Linked DNA regions of Homo sapiens: region 1 is linked to region 2. The links come from fine-mapping of genetic effects on gene expression. A gene starts in region 2. The other region holds a variant in brackets. All regions are shown on one strand. Distances are from middle to middle.

Region 1 (2,918 bases), 42 kb before region 2:
CACAGTTGAAGGATAGCTTTGCTAGATACAGTACTCTTGGATGGTGGGTTTTTTGTTTTGTTTTGGTTTGGTTTTTTTGCACTTTGAGAATTTTTTCTCAAATTTTCCTGGCCTTTATGGTTTCCATTGAGAAGTCTGTTGCCAGGTGAATTGGAGCTTCTTTATATGTTATTTTCTTCTTTTTCTGCTTTTAGGATTCTCTCTCTGTCCTCGACCTTTAAGAGTTGATTACTATAATACTTGGGGTAGTCTTATTTGGGTCAAATTTATTTAATGTTCTCTGGCCTTCCTGTACCTAAACATGTATGTCTTTGTCAAGTTTTAGAATGTTTTCTGTTATTATTTTGAATAAGTTTTCTTTTCCTTGCTCTTGCTCAACTCCCTCTTGAACACCAATAATTTTTAGATTTGCTCTTTTGAAGTAATTTTCTATATCTTGTAGGTGTCTTCATTACTTTTCATTCTTTTTACTTTTTTCTCCTCTGTCTCATTATATTTGAGTTCTGAGATAGTGCTGGTAAAAATCTCAGTACTATTTGTTTGTTTTGAGTTTCCATATGGGAGAATGAAGCCAACTTGCTTCTATGCTAACATTTTGGAACCTAAAGTGTCTGTCTACTGATTTCAATTTTTATTTCTTTAAAGTGGAACAGAATTTAAAGATTACTGTGAAGCAATTTAATCCTTCTGGCTTTGTATACCTTTTTTTTTTTTATGTTTTAAACTGCCTGGCCACACCTAACTCAACAGTATTTTGTTTTTGTTTTCATGAGACGGAGTCTCACTCTGTCGCCAGGCTGGAGTGTGGCACCATCTTGGCTCACTTAAACCTCCACCTCCTGGGTTCAAGCGATTCTCTTGCCTCAGCCTCCCAAGTAGCTGGGACTACAGGCACATGCCACCACGCCCAGCTAATTTTTGTATTTTTAGTAGGGATGTGGTTTCACCATGTTGGCCAGGATGGTCTCGATCTCCTGACATCATGATCGCCTGCCTCAGCCTCTCAAAGTCCTGGAATTACAGGTGTGAGCCACTGCACCCAGCCAACAACACTTTTTTAAAAAGCTACTTGCCTTCATTAGAATTTCCAAAACATTCTAACTTGTTTTCATAGAAATAATAACTTTTCTTTAATGTTCATATTTTATCAGTTTTCACAAGTTACTAATTATAGCAATTATAGTTACTAATTATCTTTACAATAGGGAAAGATACTTGGGAAGCAACACACCTCCTGGTACACATTCACTTCTGCTAGTTTGAGAAAGATGAGAATGTACTAAAGGTGTACCACTAATCTATGCAGTCAGCATGTCATGGGCATCAGTCAGTGTGTTTTTCAAAAATGTAGACACCTGATAATTCATGCATCAGTTAGAAGAGTTTGGTTAAGAGATCTTCTACTCACCCCAGTGATGGATTTAGCTCATTTCCACAGATGCTTGTTGATTGCTCACTCTTTACTGAACACCGGTTTTGACATTGGATATACAAAAAACAACTATGACGTGCTCTCTATTTCTAAGATCCCACAAACTAATGAGGATGGCAGAAAAGACACAAACAAAAGTTAGGAAGTGTCTCAGGATGATAGGTGCTATGGGAGAATCAGGCATAGGAAGTGTATTTAGACAACAGTAAGTCCTCAGGTATGGTTTCTTGGGAGACCCAAAATTCTTGGGTAATCTAAGCTAAATTTTGAAGGAAGAGTAGAGGTTAGTCAGATAATAAAGGATG[T/TA]GGGGGAGGTAATGGAGGAGCAGAGGGAGATACTAGTCAGAGTGAATAGCCTCACCTGCTGCTGCTCCGATTCCCACCACATTGCGTCTTCTTCCTTGCTTGACCTCTACAAACTATTCTCTGTATAGCAACCAGCGTAGCCTATTAAAAACATAAACCAGACTAGATTATTCTCCTGCCTAAAATGTTCCACTGGCAGCAGGGTGCGGTGGCTCATGCCTGTAGTCCCAGCACTTTGGGAGGCCGAGGTGGGTGGATCACGAGGTCAAGAGATCGAGACCATCCTGGGTAACATGGTGAAATCCCGTCTCTACTAAAAATACAAAAAATTAGCCAGGTGTGGTGGCAGACGCCTGTAGTCCCAGCTACTCAGGAGGCTGAGGCAGGAGAATGGCATGAACCCGGGAGGCCAAGCTTGCAGTGAGCCGAGATCACACCACTGCACTCCAGCCTGGGATACAGAGTGAGACTCCATCTCAAAAAAAAAATGTTCTACTGGCTTCCCATTACCACTGGAATTAAGTCCAAACCTCCTCTCATTGCCTAAAGTGCTCTACAGGAGTGGGACCTGCCTGCATCTCAGGGCTTGCCTCAGGTCAGCACAGGAGAGGGAAGAGCAAGATAGTCCTTAGGCCTTGAAGTCATTAGAGGTGCAATGCTGTAGGGCCAGAATGGGTAAAGGAGGGAAGGTGGGATAAACAAGGGGGTTTGTGGTGAAGACATTCACTTGAAGGGGCACTTAACATGTTATCTGACCTGTGATAAGTGCTCAGTATTTGCCAATGGATGAATTATGACTGAATGAATAAAGTCACAACCTGGCCTAGAACTGGCCTTGCGTTTTTTGGGCCAGAAATGAGTCTAGGCTGGGTGCCTTGTTAGTCACTGTTTTCATCTTCTCCTCCTGATTTCCTACTTCACATTTCTTTTTTAGATTTAATGATCTGGTCAGTTCAGCCCACATGCTGCAGGTCAACCGGGCATATAATGAGAATGATGTGATCCTAATGCGGTCCAAAATGAACATTATCCAAAAACTCTTCCTGAATTCTGACATCCCTCCAAAGCTGAGGGTAAGAAAGACTCCCACTCCACTCTGGCCTTTCACCAAGAAGCATTTCCCCCACAAGGACAATTAGAAAGCTAATTGTCAGGCACCTCATAAGTCCTGGCTAACTACA
Region 2 (2,918 bases):
TAGATGATTTTGCCCAACTGTAGCCTAATGTAAGTGTTCTGAGCACATTTAAGGTAAGCTAGGATAAGCTATGACGTTCAGTAGATTAGGTGTATTAAATGTGCTTTTGACCTACAATATTTTCAATTTAGGATGGGTTTATCTGTATGTAACCCCATCATAAGTCAAGGAGTATCTGCAGTAGTGAAAAGAGCTTGTACTCTGACCTTAGGGAGATCTAAGTTTGAGCTTGTGGCTGTGTAATTTTTTACTATTACTTCCTGTAACCTTGGATTGTTGAATCTCAATTTTCTATTTCCTGAAATGGAGACAAAAATAAATACAGTCATGTGTGTAAAGTACATTAAAGTATGGAGTGTTGCAAATATTAGCCACTCAATGAATGTTAGAGCTAATTATATCCCGTTATGAAAAAATAAATTGCTTAGTGAATTCTATTCTCCCTACACATGTGCATATAGCTACTACACGAATAGGCAACTGGCAGCTATCAATTTCGTCCAACTGTCAATCAGATCTGAGAATTACAGATCCAGTTCAATCATCAGACAGCCCGAAACTGTTACCTGAATATTTAAATAACTGCATCTGCTATAGAATTCACGAAGCAACCCTTTTTCAGCAATCTCACCACTCTGACAGTTTCAAAGCCTCAGAGGTTAATTGATTAGCCTCTTAGAAGTTTAATTAATTGTGCAACACATACACGATCACCAGGCAATGAAATCTTTGAACCAAAGTGTTTGTGTAGACCGTCCCCATTACAATCAGATGTGAGGTGGGCTGGTATAAACAAAGGAGCCGGGAAGGAGAGGAAATATCAAGGAAGCCCTGAGTGACGCATCAGAGTAGAGAAGAGACGAGCCTGCGGAAGTACTCCAACAGACAATCCTGCTTTCAATTTCACTTTCTCTGTGCGACCTGAGTAAGTCGCAAAGAGATGCCTGAGAAACTGAGGACATGGATAAATGACGTGTGGACTCTGACAGAACTCTGGAAGGGCACTGGAGGAAGATCCTTCCGGGCAGCCAAGGGCTGGGAGCTCCCCTCCCACTTCCCAAGTCCTCCAGCCCCTGGCCTCTCCAGTCTCCAAAGCCCAAGAATTCTTCAGGATCGACTTATCGAGGTTTTCTAGCTTTCCTCCTTCTGCCTGCCTTACCTGCTCAACTCAGACGTCTCAATTATTCCTTTGGCAGCCGCAAAGCCTGGAAGACTGCTTGCAGCCCGAGCAGTTTCCTCCTGCTGCGTCACTGAGTCAGCAGGGCGGAGCCAAGAAAGGAGTGAGGAGTGTGGGAGGGAAAGCAGCCACAGGCTCACTCTGGCACCAGGAGCAAAGCTTCTACTTGCACACCTTCTGGAGGAAAGCAATAGCCACTTTCTGTCTGCTGATGAGGAATGTGATGCCCGGGGTCATGTCACTCACCTCTCAGTCTTGCAGCCTTTCAGGTGGCAGCAGCCAACTGCATCCATCACTCTTGCATCCTTTCTTTGTCATTGCAAATTCTGGTCTTCTTGGAAGAAAGGAATGGAAAGTAAACACATATTGAGCACCTATTGTGTTCCAGACACAATGCTTTACATGCAGCATGGTCCCAGTTAACCCCTGACAATCTTGTTGATTATGAAACGCAGGCTCATAGAAGCTAAGTAAGCCCAAAGCCCAAGCCCTGTCACCTTTCTCAGCTCACTCAACTCACAGCTCTGAGGCAGTGCGGCCTTCTCAGAAGGGTACCGGACTGGCAGTCTGGAGACCTGATCCTACAGCCAGCTCTGTGGCTGCTTAGCTGAGTGACCTCAGGCATGTGATTTAACCATGTAGGGCCTCAGTTCTCTCCTATAACTTGGTTTTGAAGGTTCCTTTCTGCTCTACAAGTTCTGTTCTTGACTATCTTCCTAGCAATGAGCTGTGTACTGTGTACTTAGTGCTGTAGTGGAAAGTATTTCCATCCCCAAAGAATACCCAGTCTTGCTGGGGAGACAAAGCCCTGGGACTTGTGAACAACAAGTAGTGCATGGTCACTTGACGACCACCTGTGTCACACCATCCAGACCCGGGGCCTCTACCACCCCTTATACACCAGGGATTCCCAGGCCTCGCTCTCTAACCCCAGCCTCTCTGCTGAGCTTTAGACCTACAAATCTTGAATATGTGTCAAATGGAAATACTCATCTTTTCCTAAATCTGCCCCTCCTCCCACTTATTCCATCTCCACAGATGGCACCATCACCCGGAGGCCACCCCTCATCCTCATCCCAACACCAAGTCTCTTGCTTTCATCTACAAAGGGATGACCATTCGAGTCCTTGTCATCATTTATAGCAAGAAATTGATGACTTGCTTCCTAGCCCTTCATCCATTGTTCCACCCTGCATCATTGACCCACCATCATTTTCAGGACAAAGTTCAAAAATCCTTAACCCATTATTCATTTAATTAATACTTGTTGGACAGGCGTGGTGGCTCACACCTGTAATCCCAGCACTTTGGGAGGCCAAGGCAGGCAGATCACCTGAGTTCAGGAGTTCAAGACCAGCCTGGCCAACATGGTGAAACCGCGTCTCTACTAAAAATACAAAAAGTAGCCAGGTGTGGTGTTGTGCACCTGTAATCCCAGCTACTCGGGAGGCTGAGGCAGGAGAATTGCTCGAACCCGGGAGGTGGAGGTTGAAGTGAGCCAACATAGTACCACTACACTCCAGCCTGGATGACAGAGCAAGACTCCGTCTCAAAAAAAAAAAAAAAACTTATTGAGCACTGACTATGTTACCAGTGACTATTCTGCATATCTGGCATAGAATGATTTACCACACCAGTTCCTCACAGAGTTCTTCTAGGAGCTTGCATCTTAATAGGCAGAAATAGATCATAAACAGTTGAAAAACCCAACATATCATGATTTCAGGTTATAATACAGTCC

Evidence for each region. PIP is the estimated chance that this variant, and not a neighbour inherited with it, causes the effect.
Region 1: its variant is the best candidate, but not a certain one, in a credible set for the expression of RNASEL in whole blood (INTERVAL, PIP 0.67).

What each region holds. Positions count from the first base shown.
Region 1 is chr1:182,545,646-182,548,563 of GRCh38, forward strand. It overlaps RGSL1 (regulator of G protein signaling like 1), which reads left to right. Exons shown (of 22, transcript NM_001137669.2): 16 at 2,672-2,810. Among named protein-coding and RNA genes, the nearest start is that of RNASEL, 42 kb to the right of the region's middle. The variant T/TA (reference allele first, on the strand shown) is at 1,738.
Region 2 is chr1:182,588,008-182,590,925 of GRCh38, forward strand. RNASEL (ribonuclease L) reads right to left here and starts at 1,249. Exons shown (of 7, transcript NM_021133.4): 1 at 1,160-1,249. RefSeq lists an enhancer at 965-1,124.